Linked DNA regions of Homo sapiens: all the other regions are reported to be linked to region 2. The links are microRNA targets in miRTarBase. Many come from high-throughput screens and were not tested one by one. Region 2 holds a microRNA gene; each other region holds the end of a gene's coding sequence. Distances are from middle to middle.
What was found. The annotated mature microRNA hsa-miR-6500-3p reads ACACUUGUUGGGAUGACCUGC and lies in region 2 at 2,235-2,255, shown strand. An mRNA with a match to its seed (bases 2 to 7 or 8) in the 3' UTR can be bound and repressed. Matches are read on the target gene's strand: a 7mer-m8 pairs with bases 2 to 8, a 7mer-A1 pairs with bases 2 to 7 and ends in A, and an 8mer does both.

Region 1: the mRNA of SHCBP1 is a reported target of hsa-miR-6500-3p. Seed matches in the 3' UTR shown: 7mer-A1 at 2,289-2,295, 7mer-A1 at 2,417-2,423 and 7mer-A1 at 2,552-2,558.
Region 3: miRTarBase lists TRAF5 as a target of hsa-miR-6500-3p. Seed matches in the 3' UTR shown: 7mer-A1 at 1,408-1,414 and 7mer-A1 at 1,543-1,549.
Region 4: the mRNA of RHOQ is a reported target of hsa-miR-6500-3p. Seed matches in the 3' UTR shown: 7mer-m8 at 3,032-3,038.
Region 5: miRTarBase lists TMEM242 as a target of hsa-miR-6500-3p. Seed matches in the 3' UTR shown: 7mer-A1 at 50-56.

Annotation. Positions count from the first base shown.
Region 1 is chr16:46,578,136-46,582,135 of GRCh38, reverse strand. It overlaps SHCBP1 (SHC binding and spindle associated 1), which reads left to right. Exons shown (of 13, transcript NM_024745.5): 13 at 82-3,545. The coding sequence ends at 407. Among named protein-coding and RNA genes, the nearest start is that of SHCBP1, 41 kb to the left of the region's middle.
Region 2 is chr1:51,057,838-51,061,990 of GRCh38, forward strand. It overlaps MIR6500 (microRNA 6500), which reads left to right and starts at 2,181; the gene lies at 2,181-2,266. It overlaps MIR4421 (microRNA 4421), which reads left to right and starts at 2,000; the gene lies at 2,000-2,068.
Region 3 is chr1:211,372,424-211,376,423 of GRCh38, forward strand. It overlaps TRAF5 (TNF receptor associated factor 5), which reads left to right. Exons shown (of 11, transcript NM_001033910.3): 11 at 1-2,523. The coding sequence ends at 279. Among named protein-coding and RNA genes, the nearest start is that of LINC00467, 8.3 kb to the right of the region's middle.
Region 4 is chr2:46,580,686-46,584,685 of GRCh38, reverse strand. RHOQ (ras homolog family member Q) reads right to left here. Exons shown (of 5, transcript NM_012249.4): 5 at 1-3,758. The coding sequence ends at 3,603. It overlaps PIGF (phosphatidylinositol glycan anchor biosynthesis class F), which reads left to right. Exons shown (of 6, transcript NM_002643.4): 6 at 3,095-3,749. The coding sequence ends at 3,208. Among named protein-coding and RNA genes, the nearest start is that of RHOQ-AS1, 2.4 kb to the right of the region's middle.
Region 5 is chr6:157,289,383-157,293,382 of GRCh38, forward strand. It overlaps TMEM242 (transmembrane protein 242), which reads right to left. Exons shown (of 4, transcript NM_018452.6): 4 at 1-3,617. The coding sequence ends at 3,519. It also overlaps the pseudogene LOC124901551. Among named protein-coding and RNA genes, the nearest start is that of TMEM242, 32 kb to the right of the region's middle.

The DNA.
Region 1 (4,000 bases), not on the chromosome of region 2:
TGAGAAGACTGTGTAGAAATATATGTTTTTGTTGGGTTAGCTTGTATATTTAACTTTGTTATTATTTGTTTGTTTCTCCAGAAAATAAAGCGCTTAAAATTCAGACAAGTGGAGAGCCAGATGTGGCTGAAAGAGTGGATCTAGAAGAGCTGATTGAGTGTGCAACTGGTAAAATGGAGCTTTGTGCAAGAACTGACCCTTCTGAGCAAGTCGAGGGAAATTGTGAAATTGTAAATGAACTAATTGCTGCCTCCACACAGAAAGGCCAGATAAAGAAGAAAAGGTTGAGTGAACTGGGGATCACGCAAGCTGATGACAACTTAATGTCACAGGAGATGTTTGTTGGGATTGTGGGGAACCAGTTCAAGTGGAATGGGAAAGGTAGTTTTGGCACATTTCTTTTCTGACTACAGTGATGTAAGTAGATAGCAAAATACTGGATTTTGCACATGCTGCCCTAAGAATCACTGCTGCCATTGTAGTTTGCTGTATTGTCTGTATTTTATATTTGATTATTTGGGCTTGAGTGAAAGGTAGATTTATTTCCATTTGCAGGTGTTGCACATAAAACACTCCCTCTTTATAAGAAAAATCATAAATGCATATAAAATAGAAAATATTTGGAGATTGCTTATCTGAAAGTCTTGCTTTCTTATACACATGGTTCTCTCATATTAAGCCTGGTAGTAACTTTTTAGTGTAATTACCTTTAGCACTTCAAAGACGAGGAAGTAAGGAAGGGAATGCAAGACTAGTGCATAAAAATGCAATAGGTGTCATATGTACAGCATTCTTCTTAGAGTTGCCTTTTCATCCCAATTACAGTGAGTCTGATTTCCATCCTGTATTTGCATAATACTTGTCTTAAAATAAAAGCTTTTATGATTGGGAATTTATCTGCCTAATCAGACTTATTATTGAGACGTCAATGGGACGCATTTTTCTGTTGAGCTATGCAGTCGTCAAAACAGCGATAGACAGCATAGGAGGTTTGAAGCAGAAATGAAATGTGTTATTCAGAGCCAATGTTGTACATAGAGCATTTTCACTATTGCTGAATGGGAATGATTAAAAACAAGGTATTTTTCGGGCCAGGCGGTGGCTCACGCTTGTAATCGCAGCACTTTGGGAGGCTGAGGCAGGAGGATCACTTGAGCCCAGGAGTTCAAGACTAGCCTAGGCAACATAGTGAGACCCTGTCTCTACTAAAAATAAATTTAAAAAAAATTAGCTGAGTGTGGTGGTGCATGCATGTAGTTCCAGCTACTCAGGAGGCTGAGGCTAGAGGATCCTTGAGCCCAGGAGGTTGAGGCTGCAGTGAGGTGTGATTGCGCCACTGCATTCCAGCTTGGGCGACAGAGCGAGACCCAGTCTCAAAAAAAAAAAAAAGTATTTTTCTCTTACCGTTACAGTATTCTGATTATATTACTGACACAGTCAAAATGATTAACTGTACAACCTGTATCTGCTGGGTGTTCTTGTTATCATATTGTAAAACAGCTTTAAAAATATTTATATTTTAAAAACTGTATGTGACATTAATATGCCTAATGATTAAAATTATAGTGATGAAATAACAAAATTGAATCTTGTTATATCTTTTCAAACTCACTGTGGGCCATAGTGTCAGTGTAGCATATGTGGTCATTTAAGAATACATGGTATTTTGGTATCTGTTTTCATGCTTTAGAAAGAGTATTACATTTTTTCCCATTAAGTGTGGTTATGTTTGTTTTTTAAATTTGAGTAAAAAATAATTCTTATTTTTTGGATGCTACTAAATGTAGGATTTATGTTAGATTTATTATTTGATCATTGAAAGGTATTTTTACTTTTAAAAAATCTTGTTGCAAGGAGGTTTAAAAAGTAATGTTCATTTCTGCATCAGTTTCAGCCAAATGTTGATATTAAAACCTTTTATTCTTTTTTTTAATTTTTGCCTCTAGATGTGATGCCTTAAGATAAAAACCATTTATTCAACTTAAAAAAAAATCACTTTTTTTTTTTTTTTGAGATGGAGTCTTGCTCTGTCACCCAGGCTGGAGTGCAGTGGCACTATCTCGGCTTACTGTAACCTCCACCTCCTGAATTCAAGCAATTCTCCTGCCTCAGTCGCCTGAGTAGCTGGGATTATAGGTGCCCGCCACCATGCCCAGCTAATTTTTTTTTTGTATTTATTTTATTTTTATTTTATTTTGTTTTGTTTTTGAGATGGAGCTTCACTTTGTCACCCAGGCTGGAGTGCAGTGGCATGATCTCGGCTCATTGCAACCTCAGTCTCCTGGGTTCAAGTGATTCTCATGCCTCAGCCTCCCAAGTAGCTGGTATGACAGCCACCATGCCTGGCTAATTTTTGTATTTTTAGTAGAGACAGGGTTTAACCATGTTGGCCAGGCTGGTCTCAAACTCCTGACCTCAAGTGATCCACCCACCTTGGCCTCCCAAAGTGCTGGGATTACAGGCATGAGCCACGTGCCTGGCCTTTTTTTTGTATTTTTAGTAGATATGGGGTTTCACCATGTTGCCCAGGCTGTTCTCAAACTCCTGACCTCAAGTGATCCACCCACCTCAGCCTCCCAAATCACATTGATTTTTCAATTGAATTTCTACTTTATCTTGGTTTAGATTTTGTAGATAAGTTAGTAACATTTATACCTTCCTTGTTTCTTTTTATAACATGGAGTTTTTCAGATTTCATGTCTATTTTAGCTTAAATCTAAGCTTATATTAATTTTTATTCACATGATTCATTATAATGAGTAGGCCTACTTTGTTCTTATTTAAGTTATATGCAGTACATTTTGCCTCAATCATGGAGAGTTAAACATCTCAAATGGTATAGCATAGGGAATTTAGGGAGTGCCCTAGAGGGGTATGGGTTTGATATTTGAGATGAAAACACTGATGTGGAGAAAGGATAGCCTTCTGTGTTGACTAATTGTGTGTCCTGTCCTTATGGTCCACTCTTAGTGTGACCTTGAATTTATGGCAGGTAGCAAAATTCTATTTTGCTGATTTGAGTATTTTATTTTAGCTTCTTTAGATGTATTTCCCTTCTTCAGTTTCTTGTTGTATTATTGCACCATAGATATTAACACGAATATATTTTTAAAAACTGCCCAGAGATCATTTGATCTCAAGTGTATATACACTTCACTTTTCTGGAGTTACAGAAGGATGGTGAAATAATCATTTTCTGGATTTTGCTTTTCAGAGGGAGATTGAAGAAAGTTCAATAGAACACTGATGAGCTCATAAGAACCGTGTCGTTCATGTTTCTTTGTAATTCAGTTTGCTGTTTTTATTCTTATTCCTTTCTAGGAAGTACATTCCACAGGCTTCTATGGAAATTAAGTTGAAATAAATTTTGATAATTGGCCTTTGATGCAAAATTTATGCATAGCATTTAATTTTATAACATTTTGTTTTATTCTGTGATTAAATATATATATGTATATGTTTTAAAGTCTTATATGTGGTGAACATTCTCCTCTTTTTTTAGTTCTCACTATTAATAGAAAAAAATATATATTTTAAAAACAAAACAGGTGTAATATATCAATGCTCTGAGAATTGCTATTGCTATTTTCCCTTAATATATTGCAGAAAAATATGTCTGTACATACAAATCCACCTTATTCTTTTGATAGTTGTGTTATAGCCCATTGCTGGAATTCTTTCAGTTGTAAGTGATAGAAACTCAACTGAGAAAGGCTGTATGAGAGTTGGTTCTTGGAACTAAACATCTAAGGATGAGAGCTTGATTACATTTCTTACTTTTATAAGGTTTCTTGACAGTATGAGTTCTGTTTTCTTTCTTTTCCCCTTCCCCTTCCCCTTCCCCTTCCCCTCCATCTCCTTCCCCTTCCCCTCCATCTCCTTCCCCTTCCCCTTCCCCTTCCCCTCCATCTCCTTCCCCTTCCCTTTCCCTTTCCCTTTCCCTCTCCCTTTTCCTTTCCCTTCCCTTCCCTCTCTGTCACCCAGGGTGGAATGCAATGGC
Region 2 (4,153 bases):
GGCTAATTTTTGTAGTTTAAGTAGAGACAAGGTTTCACCATGTTGGCCAAGCTGGTCTTTAACTCCTGACCTCAGGTGATCCACCTGCCTCGACCTCCCAAAGTGCTGGGATTACAGGCATGAGCCACTGCACCTAACCCATTATTTCTTTAAAAAAGCTTTTTACCTCTTTCTCTTGCTTTTCTTCTTCTAGTACTCTCATTATGCACATATTGGTTTGCTTGATGGTGTCCCATAAGTCCTATAAATTTTCTTCACTCTTTTTCATTCTTTTTTCTCCTCTGACTGGATAATTTCAAATAACCTGTCTTCAAGGGCACAAATTCTTTCTTCTGCTCAATAAAGTCTATTTTTGAAGTTCTCTATTGTGTTTTTAATATCAGTCATTAGGTTTTTTGGTTCCAGAATTTCTTTCTTTTTCTTTTTTTTTTTTTTTTCTTTTTTTGAGTTGGAGTCTCATTCTGTCACCCAGGCTGGAGTGCAGTGGCATGACCTCAGCTCACTGCAACCTCTGCCTCCCAGGTTCAAGTGATTCTCCTGTCTCAGTCTCCTGAGTAGCTGGGATTACAGGTGCACACCACCATGCCCAGCTAATTTTTTGTATTTTAGTAGATATGGGGTTTCACTGTGTTGCCCAGGCTGGTCTCAAACTCCTGAGCTCAGGCAATCCGCCTACCTTGGCCTCCCAAAGTGCTAGGATTACAGGTGTGAGCCACCACTCCCAGCCTGGTTCTTTTTTATAAGTTCTACCTTCCTGTTGAACTTCTTGTATTGTTCATGTATTCTTTCTCTGTTTTCAGATGAAATCAGACATGTTCGAGGTGGTATGGCCGTAGACTCTTTTTCTGTTTTCACTGAGTTGTCCAACTGTGTTCTCCTATTGCATGCTGAACTTCTTTAAAAACAATTATTTCTAATTGTTTGGAAGGCAATTTATAGATATCCATTTCTTTGGGGTTGGTTATTGGAAAATTATTGTGTTCCTTTGGTGGTGTCCTGTTTCTTTGATTTCGTGTGTGCGTATTTCTTGTAGCCTTGGGCTGTTTCTTTGCATATTTCATGGAGGAGTAACTTCTAGAGCATATGAACTGGCTTCATGGAGGAAGACTGTCACCTACAGGTTGGTGCAAGTGATGGCAGCAGTGGCCTGTCTGGAGTAGCCACTGTGAAGATGCCGGCTTCAGCAGGGGAAGCACAACTGGGGCTGCACACTCTGCTGAGCCCACGGGTGCCGGGAACAGGTGGGAGCCCCACCCCCTAACAAGTCAGTGGAGCAGGAGCCACATGCTCCCAGGCACAGCTGCAGCTTCTCAGCTGTAGCCACAGACCCAGGCATCCCTGAGGTCTCAGGGGCCCCGGAAGCCCTTTGTTCCCGTAGGCTTGAAAGTGCCTGCTCCCACTGCCTGGCCTCTCCCTGCTCCTGGCCCCCACTCTGGGGCAGAGCAAAGTTGTGGCAGAGCCCAGGCACTGTTGTGACCCAGCTGGGTACCCAAGCACTCAGGGCAGTGCTGACATGCCAGCCCCCTGCTGTCTCAGGCCATCCAGACTTTGGGAACTGAAGAGCACAAGAGGGAGACCAAGGGGTTGCTCAGGGTGGCTCAGTGTGGGCCTGTAGGCAAACCTCAGCATGAACAGCCTGGGCGGCATGGACAACATGTTGATGGTGACAGGAGGCAGACAGGCTCCTGGGCAGAAAGGGGCAGGTTCCCAGTGAAACGCAACCTTCAAGCCATGGATGGCATGAAGCCTGGGGGCTGGGCTGTCAGCTCCAGGTGGAGTCTGCGGCCTGGAGTGAGAACTTATGGTGCTTTTTCCAGGCCCGCCCATGGCCACCCATGGGCCAATCAGAACACACTTCTTCCTTTCTGAGCCCATAAAAACTATGTTACCTAGCTAGACTCATACAGATGTCAGGACTACCAGCTGCAGGAAGGAGCTACCCACTTCAGGTCTCCTCTACTTGTCAGTATGACCTGCCTGTGGAAAAGAGCTACTCACTCTGGGTCTCCTTTCTGCTGAGAGTTGAACACTTGTTGGGACAACCTGTCTGTGGAAAGGAGCTACCTACTCTGGGTTTCCTCTCCCCTGAGAGCTGGACACTCATCTGGACAACCTGCCTGCAGCTAGGAGCTACCTTCTCTGGGTCTCTTCTCTGCTGAGGGCTGCACTCGTCAGGACTACCTGCCTGCAGAAAGGAGCTATCCACTCCAGGTGTCCTTTCTTCTGAGAGCTGGACACTTGTTGGGATGACCTGCCTGCAGGTAGGAGCTGCCCACTCTGGTCTCCTCTCTGCTGAGGGATGCACTCGTCAGGACTAACTGCCTATGGAAAGGAGCTACCCACTCCAGGTCTCCTCTCCCCAGAGAGCTGGACACTTGTCAGGATGACCTGCCTGTGAAATGGAGCTACCCAATCTGGGGCTCCTCTCTACTGAGGGCTGAACTAGTTGGGATGACCTGCCTGTGGAAAGGAGCTACCAACTCCAGGTCTCCCAAGAGCTGTTCTGTCACTCTTTTGCTCAAGAAAGTTCCTTTCTGCCTTGCTCACCCTCCAGTTTTCTGCATACCTCATTCTTCCTGGACACAGGACAAAAATTCAGGACCTGTTGAATGGTGGGACTGAAAGTGCTATAACACAAACAGAGCTAAAACACCTGCCTCCACCCCACTCGTCACACTGCAGGCAATGAGAAGGAGAGAAGAGCTGCAGCCCTTCAGGGAGCTCAGATGCACAGGCTCCCCCAGCCAGGGCTGTGACACCCTCTTTGGGGCTCTGTGGTTTCTAGTGTCTTGGAGCTTCCAAGTGCCACCATGTTCCCCTTGTCCAGATGTGAGTGCCCAGAGCAGAAGCCACTTATAGTGCATCTGATCCAGCCACAGGCTTGAACAGAGCCAGCACCTGTGGTGGCACCTGGAACTGCCCACCCCACCACAGCAGCCAATGCTTGGCTGTGTGCAGCAGCCAGACCCCATGCTTGCTTACTTGTGCACCCCTCTCCTCTCCATGCCTGGATCATTCTTTGAAGGTGTGGGAGCCAGGCCAGTAGCATGAGCTGAGTGCAGCCTGCCAGGCCGAGTGGGTGGAACAAGCCCAGCAGGCTTGAGCAAAACTCTGGCAAAGGCACCACTGGCCACAGAGGTTTCCAACTGGAAAAGTGACACCTGGAGGATGCCATGACACAAGGATTCTGACTGATGGGTATGCAGCCCTTGGTACAACACTGAATATAAATGGTAAGAGTGAACGTCCTTGTCTTATTCCTGATCTTAGGTGGTACTATGGTTTGAATATGATTTGTTTGGCCCTGCCAAGTCTCATGTTGAAATCTGATCCCCAGTGTTAAAGATGGGGCCTGGTAGGAGTGTTTGGGTTGTGGGGGTGGATCCTTCATGAATAGCTCTGTACCATTCTCACGAGAGTGAGTTCTTACTTTTAGTTCCCACAAGAACTGGTTGTTGAAAAAAGCCTGGTACCTCCTCTAGTCTCTCTCTTGCTTCCTCTCTCACCATATGATATGCATATACCAGCTCCTCTTCACTTTCTGCCATAAGTGGAATCAGCCTGGAGCCTTCACTAGAAGCAGATGCCAATGCCATGATTCTTGTGCAGCCTGCAGAACCGTGAGACAAATGAACCTCTTTTCTTCATGAATTACCCAGCCTCAGGTATGCCTTTATATTAATAGTAACACAGACTAAGATGGGATAATTTTTTCAAGCCTTTCACCACAAAGTGACATTAGCAGTGTGTTTTCATAGATGCCCTTTATCAGGCTGAGGAAGTTTCCTTCTATTCCAGGTTTCTTGTTTGTTTTTTTAATCATTAAAGTGTGTTGAATTTTCTCAAGTGCTTTTTCATATCTATGACATGACTGTTTGGCTTTTGTCCATTATTCTATTAATATGATATATGATAATGTATGCTGAGCCTGTATTCATGGAATAAATTCCACTTTGTCATGGTCCATAAATATTTTTATATGGAGCTGGAATCATTCTGATAGTCTATATTCATAACAATAGTTTATATTCATAAAGTTACTGGAAAGAATTTGGCTGTTAATCTTATCAAGAATACCTCAGAGATGATGAGCTGCTTCTGTCTTTCTGCTTTCAATATACTCTCTGTGCCCTTGGTTTTCCAGTTGGTTATG
Region 3 (4,000 bases), 160 Mb from region 2:
ATGCGAGGAGAGTTTGACTCACTGTTGCAGTGGCCATTCAGGCAGAGGGTGACCCTGATGCTTCTGGACCAGAGTGGCAAAAAGAACATTATGGAGACCTTCAAACCTGACCCCAATAGCAGCAGCTTTAAAAGACCTGATGGGGAGATGAACATTGCATCTGGCTGTCCCCGCTTTGTGGCTCATTCTGTTTTGGAGAATGCCAAGAACGCCTACATTAAAGATGACACTCTGTTCTTGAAAGTGGCCGTGGACTTAACTGACCTGGAGGATCTCTAGTCACTGTTATGGGGTGATAAGAGGACTTCTTGGGGCCAGAACTGTGGAGGAGAGCACATTTGATTATCATATTGACCTGGATTTAGACTCAAAGCACATTTGTATTTGCCTTTTTCCTTAACGTTTGAAGTCAGTTTAAAACTTCTGAAGTGCTGTCTTTTTACATTTTACTCTGTCCCAGTTTGAAACTTAAAACTCTTAGAATATTCTCTTATTATTTATATTTTTATATTTCTTGAAAGATGGTAAGTTTCTTGAAGTTTTTGGGGCGTTTCTCTTTTACTGGTGCTTAGCGCAGTGTCTCGGGCACTCTAAATATTGAGTGTTATGGAGGACACAGAGGTAGCAGAATCCCAGTTGAAAATGTTTTGATATTTTATTGTTTGGCCTATTGATTCTAGACCTGGCCTTAAGTCTGCAAAAGCCATCTTTATAAGGTAGGCTGTTCCAGTTAAGTAGTGGGTGATGTAGTTACAAAGATAATATGCTCAGTTTGGACCTTTTTTTCAGTTAAATGCTAAATATATGAAAATTACTATACCTCTAAGTATTTTCATGAAATTCACCAGCAGTTTGCAAGCACAGTTTTGCAAGGCTGCATAAGAACTGGTGAATGGGGTAAGCATTTTCATTCTTCCTGCTGAAGTAAAGCAGAAAGTACTGCATAGTATATGAGATATAGCCAGCTAGCTAAAGTTCAGATTTTGTTAGGTTCAACCCTATGAAAAAAACTATTTTCATAGGTCAAAAATGGTAAAAAATTAGCAGTTTCATAAGATTCAACCAAATAAATATATATATACACACACACATACATATACACCTATATATGTGTGTATACAAACAGTTCGAATGTATTTTGGTGACAGTAATAAATCAATGTGAGGATGGATAGAATTTAGTATATGATAGAGAAAATGTCATAAATGGATAAAAGGAATTTACAACTTGAGGAGAAAACCTTTACAATTTCCTATGGGTGTCAGAAGTACTCTCAGCGAAAACTGATGGCTAAAACAGTATCTACTATTCTCTGATAACTTTTTTTTTGAGACAGAGTTTCATTGTCACCCAGGCTGGAGTACAGTGGCATGATCTCAGCTCACTGCAAACTCTGCCTCCCGAATTCAAGTGATTCTCCTGCCTCAGCCTCCTGAGTAGCTGGGATTACAGGCGCCCGTCACCACACCCAGGTAATTTTTGTATTTTTAGTAGAGACGGAGTTTTGCCATGTTGGCCAAGCTGATCTCAAACTCCTGACCTCAAGTGATCTGCCCGCCTCGGCCTCCCAAAGTGCTGAGATTACAGGCATGACCCACCGCGTCAAGCCTCTGACAACTATTGAATTTGTAAGCTGCTATGCAAATGGGCATTTATATAAACTTGTGATGTTTCTTGTCAGAATTCTGAGTACTCTGTGAAGAACAGAAATGATCATATTCTTATGCATCTATCTGTATGGGTCTGAAGGTGTATATACAAACTGAGATGAGTCCTTATGACTCTTGATAAGCCTGAGTTTAACAACAACAAAAATGCCAAGTTGTCCTGAGCCCTTCTGCGTTGTTATGCCACTTCCCTACTGCTCATATGCACGCTGGCTCCCCTGGGCACGCAAGGATGAGTATGGGCCATGGGCCCCTGTAGAGCTGCTTACCTGGTGATGACCATGCACCTTACAATTTCTGAACAGTTAACCCTATAGAAGCATGCTTTATATGAGTGTCTTCTGGGAAGAGGAACCTTCTTAATCTCTTCTGTGGGATTTTCAAAATGCTAAAGACTCACACTGCAGCAATCATCCCAGATGATTAAATTCAAAGAAATAGGTTCACAACAGGAATATACTGAAGAACTAGAGTGTCACTGCTGGTGAACTGTGGCACGGTTGCTCAACACATCACCTCGGACAAATTCAGGAAGCATTTCTTTAGCCCACAAGTCCAGACCCAGGTGCTCTGTATGTTTGTTTTTAATATTCATCATATCCAAGTTCACTCTGTCTTCCTGAGCAGTGGAAGATCATATTGCTGTAACTTCTTTTAAGTAGTTGATGTGGAAAACATTTTAAAGTGAATTTGTCAAAATGCTGGTTTTGTGTTTTATCCAACTTTTGTGCATATATATAAAGTATGTCATGGCATGGTTTGCTTAGGAGTTCAGAGTTCCTTCATCATCGAAATAGTGATTAAGTGATCCCAGAACAAGGAATACTAGAGTAAAAAGCACCTCTTTTTCACAAAACGAGTTGTGATTTTTGTTTTAAACAAGGTGGATCCATGTAAACTATTTTTCCTTTTTTTATGAACAGGACAGTAATTTTTCTTCTGTATCAATAAGATTTAAATTTTTATTTCCATTTTGGGTTAATTTTGGTTCCTGATGAAAAGATAACAATACACTAAGCATAAAGGGGAAGTTAATAAGTTACAGAAGGATTATAGTGGGGGTGTGTGTGTTAATAATGCTTATTAACAAGTCTGAAATCTGACTCCTGATTTCCACATTTGGTATTTTCAGAGAAAACAAGAGATAGTCACAGCCAGGATCAATTCACAGTGCCAGTCCTGAATACAATAGGACAGTGAAGTACAAACCCTTTGTGTGGTCCCTGGATAATCAGTCCACGCTACTGACTACCTCTTTTCTCTTAGAAAGCAGTTGGAGACATACGTCTCAATCTTATATAAGAATTCTGAGCTGGAGATAAAGGTTTGATGGAGGCACAGTAGGGGTCCCAGGTGGTGAAATCACACAGGAATAACACATTCTATGGGAAGAGGAAGACGAGCCTGTAAAGCATTTGGAGAAGGAATGATCAGAGGTAAGAGAAACACCAAGGAAGGTGGGAAGAGAAAAGAATGTCAACAGGGCCAAATGCCAGCCTCGGAACAGCAGCCACTCCCAGAGCACTCCCACAGCCCTTCTGAACACACTCTCACCCCCATGCTGCTCTCTCCTCAAGTCTGTATCTCTGACCCTGGCCTTTGCCATAAGCTGATCTGAGTACCTGCTGAACATCTAAATTCAGGAATCCCATAGGGACTTTAAGAACCACTTCACCATACGGAACTGGAAATCTTCCTACCTTCCCCACTACTGCCAACCTATTACTCCTCAATTTTTTCTACCTAAATGACATCATTGTCCGAGCCAAAAGTTTGGACACTATTTTAGATTCCTCCCTCATCTTCCCTATCCAGTAACCCACCCTGCACTGCCAATTTGATCTCCAAATAATTTCTTTAAAAGTATTCCTACTACTTACCCCTCCTCAGTACTACTGTCCTGTTTCAGGCCTACATTATTTTTTAACTTACAACTATTCTTCCTATTTTTAGTTGTGCCTCTTTGAAATCCAACCTCTACAGTGTCACCTGATGATCCGTCTCAAATGAAAATCTGAATATGACTCCCACCCCACCCACACTGTGGCTTCATAGCCCATAGGAAAAAGCCCAGCCTCATGGAGTGCCATACAAGGCCCTCCATGCCACTTGTACCTTTCCGGCCTCACCTCCTGACATTTCTACTTTGCATTTAGCAACACCACCCCAAGCTATCTGATATTTGTCTGAGCTTGTGCTATATGTCTATCTGGAATACTCTTTTTTTTGAGATAGGGTCTTACTCTGTCACCCAGGCTGCAGTCCAGTGGCGCAATTACAGCTCACTGCAGCCTTGACCTCCCTGGGTTCAGGTGATCCTTCCACCTCTGCCT
Region 4 (4,000 bases), not on the chromosome of region 2:
ACAGTCTTCAAAGCCAGTCCACATTTTAATTTGCTGATGGCATGCACTTCTTGATTTACATAACATGAATAACCAAGTGTTCCAAGCCGTAACCCTTCATTAGACAAAATTTTTTAACATTTCATTTTTGGCATTCTGTTGGAGGTGAGGTGTGGCAGCTGTTTAAAAGAATGTGCGTGGTGGTATGTATGTGTTTGAGAACAAAGAGCCATACTGAAATTACAAAATGATTAAAATACAATTTAGTAACCCAAATTGGAATCTAGCTGGGATTCATGAGGGATTACTATTCTCCCTATACTTTAACAGTGAGCTTTTTTTAACAGAGTATAGGGACTCATACTTTGCCAATGATTAGTAGACTCTCAGCATAAATAGAGGAAAGAGTATTATCCTAAATGTTTACATAGGGTAATAAATAAAAACTACTAAGGTAAAAAGTTCAGTGCTTTACGTAGATAGTAAACTATGCATAGTATTTTATTTGTAACCCCATGTGTTAAGAAGGGACACTGTTAAAGTAACAATCATTTAAAAGTAACAACCAACAAACTGGTATTTAATTTGGTATTTTAAATAGTTAAAAATCAAATGGAAACAGTGTCTAAAGTCACTAAGATAATTCATAACAAAACCCATTAATCCAAGCTCCACTTATTGTAAATAGAATTCACCATGAGCTAACCTAAAATGTACCTGTGGAGATAAAACAAGAGTGTAAGTTAGCAAAGTATTAAATAAAATTTCAGGGAGCCCCTAAATTTATTTTTAAGAACTTTAGAACTAATTCTCTATATGCAAACACTGATTAACTCAAATATCTTGTAAGTTCATTCATACATGGCCTTATTTGAGGCAGTGTATTTGTATTCACTAGCAAAATTCATGTCAGTAAAATATTTTTGAAGCAGTTTATTTCCCAGATATTTCACTAGTTTGAAATAGTCATTTCAGTGATTAGTCTGAATTTCTATTGAAGCCTAAGCTTTGAATGAAGACATGCTTCTGAAAATAAGGCAGTTTTTCTCTAGTCTGCTTATCAATAGAAAACAAATCTTTGGTTTTTAGTTAAAGTGACAGGAAGGATTTTTGCAAAAAGAAAAACTAAAGAACCAAAGCAATTAAAAAGCTCTTGATAAGCAATGGGGAACTCCAAACCCATCAAGGTCAGTAGAGTACCTAAGGCACCTCAGCTTCAGATGTGACAGTCATCTTTGCTTAGAGTTCTGATAATCTATATACATGATTTTTACCATCTTGAGAATGTGAAGCTGAAAAGGTAACATCCAACAATGATTACTGTGAATAAGAAAATTACTGTGATAAATGGGAGAGACGTTGGAGATCTCTGTTCTACCTCCCATATTTATAATGAGGAAACCAAATCCCAGTCAAGAAACAGGTGACACCAGTTTGTGTAGACAAATTCCTAATCTGTTTCTGTTAGGGCAGGGCAAATTCTAGACTTCTAACTTTGAATTAGTAAACCAAGTGTGAAGGGTTTCAGAGATATGAATTGGAGCCCCCTCCCCCCACCAAAAAAAATCCTCATAAATCCCCAAAGGCAAGTTGGAAATGTGTAATAGTTTACTGTTGTAATTCGTTTATACCATGTGTTGGACAACTCAGCTAATATGTTAATTGATTTATACAATTCCTTTCAATTTTATCTAAAAATAAGCAGACCAAAATTAAATAAGAAAGTTACATAAGATTCCATTTGAGCATACATAAGGCCATGATACTTTAATGTGAACCACCATTTCTTGGAAGAAAGAAGACATCCAAATGTCCGATTCAGAGAGAAAGTTCCTGGCCAGTCATCCAGTAGACTCTCTCCACTCTTCAATGGGAAGGTGATGCTTATATTTTTAAAAATCTCTACAAAGCTCACATACAACAAGACAGTACATCCTAGATTTGTGACTGATATGAGCATTTAAGGCTGTCATTTTCAAGTATAAAAGTTTAGTGTTCCATTACCCAATCTGTGCAGTAGACATAGCTATAAGCTCAAGTCATGTGAATTAACAGAAGCCCACCAAAGACATTTAAAAAATTATAATTTGGGCAACAGCAAGTTTAAATGTAGGAAAGGCTAGAAAAAATGTGATGAGATTGTTTCTCTAAAATGCATTAGGTTGTTCACAATGAAGCTTTGTCTAACACCATTATCTGATGCATCCATTATCTGATGCATGGCATATGCAATAAGGCAGATCCACAGCAGACCAAACAAGGAAGCTGAATTAGGTAATAGAACTAGTAATTAAGATGGTTCACCTCTAACACAGTTCTGTGGCCTGTTCCCCCCAGAGAAAGATTAGAAATGGCTCCAGTGTACCAAATAAGCTTCACAGAAGAACATGAAAATTTTCCTCCAACTTTTTTTTCTTTTTTTTTTCAAGCAGAGCCTTTCACTTAGGGACCAACTGCTTGTAGATGAAATAAATCAACATTAATTACTTCTAGCCTGATGTAATATGGCTGGAGAAAAGGGGTCTCTGGAAGCCGGTATTTTGTTTAACTTACATTCTAGGTGTGTATATAAGTTGTCGCTCTATAACTTCTGCTGTGGTTCCAACATCTATATCTGAAAGGTGGAAGCAGCTGCTCTGTTACAATTTTCATGTAACACGCTTGGATTCTAGGTCTTTCCTCTTTAACACAACTTAAAGAAAGTTTCTTGTGGTTTGGTCAGCATACACACTTCTCATTTCATTTGATGTACACAGCCAAAGTGGGAATTAAAAAAAAAAAATTACCAACTAGTTCAGAGAGCTAAATTGAGTCTATCATTATGGCAAAGTCTGACCCAAAATTTTAATTTGTAATTTTAGCATGTGTCTCATGCACTTTGGGGAGCGTCAAACTAAATCTACAATTGCCAGAAGCCTTGTTACAGTTTAATGCACATTAACTAAAATGTGTACATTTTTAGTGTTCATGATAAATGCAGTTATGACCTTATTACACTTTTGGCATTCTTTAAGAAAGCACATTAAGCTTTAATATAGAAATATTTAGGTTACACTTGTGCTCAAGTAATAATAAAACATTTGTTCTTTTTTGATCTCATACATTCTCTCCTCAGGTATGGCCCATCTCCTGTACGCTTGGAGCGACCTTTGGCTACGTGGCTGGCCTTGTTATTTCACCACTCTGGATATACTGGAATAGAAAGCAACTTACATACAAGAACAATTAACTGGAGCAAAGGGAGATATTTCTTTGTGCAGATTCTGTAAGGGCTGGGCAGAAATGTGTATGGTCAAAGCCAAGCAGTTCCATTTACAGCTCTGTTTTTTACGTAGTTACAACATGATGTGATTGTAGCTTTTTAAACTATGAAACCCCTGAGAGATTGTACCTTCTAGTTGAAATAAAGTATTTATAATAGATTGTGGCTTCAGATGCTGCTTACTGCTTCTTAAACCTTTAAGGAACATTCTTAATACACTTTATAGAATTCTGAGGACAGGTTTTGTTTTCTTTCAAGTTTTGAACTGCTTCATTACCTATAAAAGGTCTGGGTATAGCTGTAGCATTTCATTTGCTTTCTGAGAGAAATGGACAGTTTCCTTGGCCACTGAAGATGTTTCTCACGTAATTAAACAACAGTTTATACATCTTGATCCTATTCTTTTTTTTACAGTGTGTTTCTTTGGAGTTAAAATGGCTATGATAGCCTCATCAAAAACAGTCTTCAATCCCTTCTGGGTTAAAGCTGAACATTCCACATAGCAGCATGCTCCTATCTGGGAGGGAGAAAAAAAATCACAAATATATAAGATCATGTTTATACAATTGGCATGACATAAACACATCATTATAAAGAAAATTATAAAATACAGCTATGCAAAAAGAATACATTCATCATCCATGTTCATAACCCCAGAGGGGATTTTAAAATACTAGTATATGTCCTTCCAGACTTTCTATGAAAAATTATTTCACTCACCACATATTTACTGGGTATCTACTATATGTCAAGCACTGT
Region 5 (4,000 bases), not on the chromosome of region 2:
AAATACTTGCTATATCATTTAATGACTCTTGGCAGAAAGCAAAAACACTTCACTTGAACATGGTATTATAAAAATATGTATTTTACTAACTTTCATAGGAAATTTAACTATTTGATGAAATGCCTTTGTATGTTACCTGATTTTCATTTGTACTTAACAATTTGTCTTAAAGATGATACATAAAAATGAGATGAAAATATATAACCTTCCCCATAAACCAAGATTTAATCTTGGAGATTAAATGTTGCCCCAAGTGAAATAGCTAAATTCAATGGATTTTAATTACTTTTATCCCCATGGGCTCCCCGTCCCCCCACCCCCACCTTAATTTCTTCTATTTTCCCCTTAGATTGCAATGATTAATTTGCAAGTTTGGTCCCATACTATCCATGAAACTAAACAAAACATGTGACAGCCCAGGTGATTCGATGCCACCTTTTGACTAAGCAGGCAAAGTGCCCTTAACGCCAGCCTGGGCCCATGCCCTGACGCGAGGGTGGTGGTGGAGATGGCCCACGACCCTCTCAGCAGCCACATGCTTCCATGCCCTTGGGCCATGGTCCTCCTGGTGATGGGCTGCCGGGCGTCTTCGGAGGCAGCTCCCGTCCCCCACTTTCCACTCTCAGGTTGTCCTGAACCCACACTTTCTTGACTCTGAATATAACAGCAGCCTATGGACTCCTTTTCACAGGGCAGCAGCAACTTACCAGGATACATGTTTTCCCTTGAATGAATCCTGGGGTCTCGGAAGCCACTCCTCCCTGCCCGTGCTTTCTCTAATAGCTCTTTTGGGCGCTGAGACTCTAAGTGTAAAGCTTAACACTCACCCAGTGGAAGCAACAGCCTTACCGAAAGCCTCCTTAATGTTGGCTTAGACAGGAAATGGAAATGGCCTGCGTTATCCATCCTTTAAAGCATTTCTAGTGCTCAGCCTCCATGAAATGGATTGCTTATAGGGAGATAATGTCTGTTCTATTCCTTTTTAAGTCTGTGAAAAATGTCATCCTGGTTAATAGGGTGATTAAAACTCTTTATGCTCCAGGAGATAAATGTGATTATGTTTGTCATACTCAACCCAAGATAAAGACAGCAAAGAAGGCAAACTTGAAATTCCATCACATTTCCTCTCTTCCATATCCAGGGACATTCAGAGCTCAATACACAGATGGTACGTCTCATAAAGAATAACATTATCTGTTCAACATTTTTCCTTTCCATTAACCAATTTAACAATATGCCTCTGGTACAAAAGGAATAGACAAATGACGAAATCTACTGATATTCAAGTTCTGACTGTGAAAAACACCACTTGAGTCATACTGCTTGTTTTCTTTTTAAATTTCCATCTGTGCATTACTTCACCTTTGCTTTTAAGATGCAATTGGAGCTGACGCTTGGTCCCTCTTTTAGGGAATTTGTCCCTGCCAGCCTCCCCTCTGCAGGGGATTCATCATCATTCTAATGGGAGTTCCCCTGCCATCGGTCAAGGACAGCAGAGGTGACATATAAGGGTTTTGTAGACACGAGGCATGCCACTCTAGTATTAGGACACTCTTTCAGCAACATATGTCTAGGCCTCCTCTGTGCCAGCCCTGTGGGAAAGCAGAGCCCCCACCATGGCCCCTGGCTCCTTCCTAGGGCCTAGCTGCCATCAGCCTGATGTGCAGCAGCCTCTGCAGCGGTGCTGACACCAGTTTACAAGGCCCTGAGAGGGGTCCCTGCCCTTCGGGAGGTTACAAGGCAGGAATCCATTAACAGAATCAGTTAACAATGATTTCTCCTTTTAACACTCCAGACAGGTGGGCAAGTCTCCTTTCTCCACCCAGTGGAGGCCTTTAGAAACCACTAGGCATTCTCCATCTATGAAAAATAAAACCCAGATTCTAGCTGTAAACAGTTTTAGGTAGTGCCCATTCTTTTTCCCCCCACATCAAACGAGTAAAGTGCATCGTTGTAACAAGGTTTGAGGGCCATCTCATGCACGTTGGAAACCCACATTTATGAAGCACAAAAGGATCAGGCGGTGCCCATTCTATTCAGAGGAACCTAGATTCAGACTAATTGTATGGACGAAAACCTGTTCCTTTGGCTCCTGCCTTTCCTTCCTTTCATTCAAAGCCTACAGATCTCTTCTCAGAGGAGATTTAGTTACAAATGAAAGGCAGTGAAGAGTTTTTGCTACCCGCATTCACTGACCAATTTCACAATCCTTTCCTTTCAGTCTTGGATTTTTAACAGATTACATATGAATTCCAGATGCTGATTACACCTGTTTCATTAACAATACAGCAATTTTAACAGGGTAACATGGTCTAGAGAAAAGTATTACATTAAGTTCTTGTCATTTCATTTAAAAATCTCCCTTAGAATAAAAGGTTTCATGATAACAGAAATTTCAAATGTCCTTTATTAAACCTGATTGCTGACTAATTAGAGCCTAGGCAAGTAGGAAGAAATTGCACAACTGATATTTAACTACAGGTTTTTTCTCTGGACATATTGACATATTAAAGTATTTCTCTTCTTGAAAATATTTTAAAATACAATTGCAGTAAAAACAATTGCATGTAGACATTATTCTCCATCTGTTTTTTTTGTAGGAGACTGTGGAAGACAGGAGGGAGTTGGGCGTGCACACAGAATTTACCCTAACAGCTTTGTTAGGGAGGTGGTCCCAAATACTTTATATTGGGACTCCGTACTCAGGTGACTTTCTGGTTAAAAATATTGAAGACGGATGACAACTGGGCTTTTTTTACTTTGACAACTGAGACAAAATGACAAATTGTCAGTGTTCAGAGATCCAGACCAACTTCTCAAAAAAATATGTTTACCCCTGATATCATCATTATTTTAGCCCAACTGTGCCTTTTGGGGTGATCACAACTCATTACTGGCTTTTTGTTTTAAGTATAAGAATTTATAGGGCCTTCAAGCAAGGGCATCAGGTAAATAACTAGCATGTGTGTGATGGCTGTAAAGCACAGACCACATTTAGGACCCGAGAGCCACACCCACTTCCTACCATACAGGACTTACCAGGTGACTGTCACTTTGTAGTCTGGCTAATCAGAATAAGACTTCCAAGTTCTGTCATATATTGACAAGAAAGGCTCTTGAAACTCCTTTAATTAGACACATTGCAGTACTATTGCTATTAGGGGGTCTGTTTTATAAATATTTTCTTATCATACTTTTATTATAAACTTTTTTAGTATGAAATTTGCTTCAACTGTTACAAACAGAATCATTTCCTATGGGGTCCCCTCCACATAAGGAAGTTATTCCTGTAATTACTATTTTTAAATAGTCTTCTTAACTGTGGGAAAACTTTACCCTCCCCCAGCACGCACACACATACTCTCCTGTGATGAGGCTGAATGCTATCCAGTGCACTGGTTCAGTCAGCAATCTGCCCATGTTCCTGGGAGAAATCAGTCCCAGTCCTTTTGCTGTCATGGTGTCTCCAGAGCCACCCCTTTCTGTAACAAGCATTTTGAAATTCATCCATGCTCATCTCATTTGGATTTCAATGTTTCCTCCCACTCAACAGCCGATTCGGAGTTCTTGGGAATTGTTGGAAATATTGATTGCATTTTACTTCGAAAGTCGTTCATCTAAAAGAAGAAAAATAATCAGTTATCAAATGTTAAAAGAAGGAGAAAAACAGCTATTAGAGATGGCACCTTTGCTGACTGGCTAGTACTTCACTGCTCACAGATACAGAGCTAAGGAACATCAATAAAAGATAGGGACTATATATATCCTAGGTATCTTGAAAGAAAATGAAATATACTTCCTTTCTTCTTCTGAGTATAAATTTATTAATAAATAACATAAAACTTCACTCTTAGCTGGACATGGTGGCTCACACCTGTAGTCCTAGCTACTCGGGAGGCTGAGGTGGGTAGATTGCTTGAGCCCAGGAGTTTGAGTCCAGCCTGGGCAACACAGCAAGACTCTATCTCTTTAAAAACAAACAAACAAACAAACAAACAAA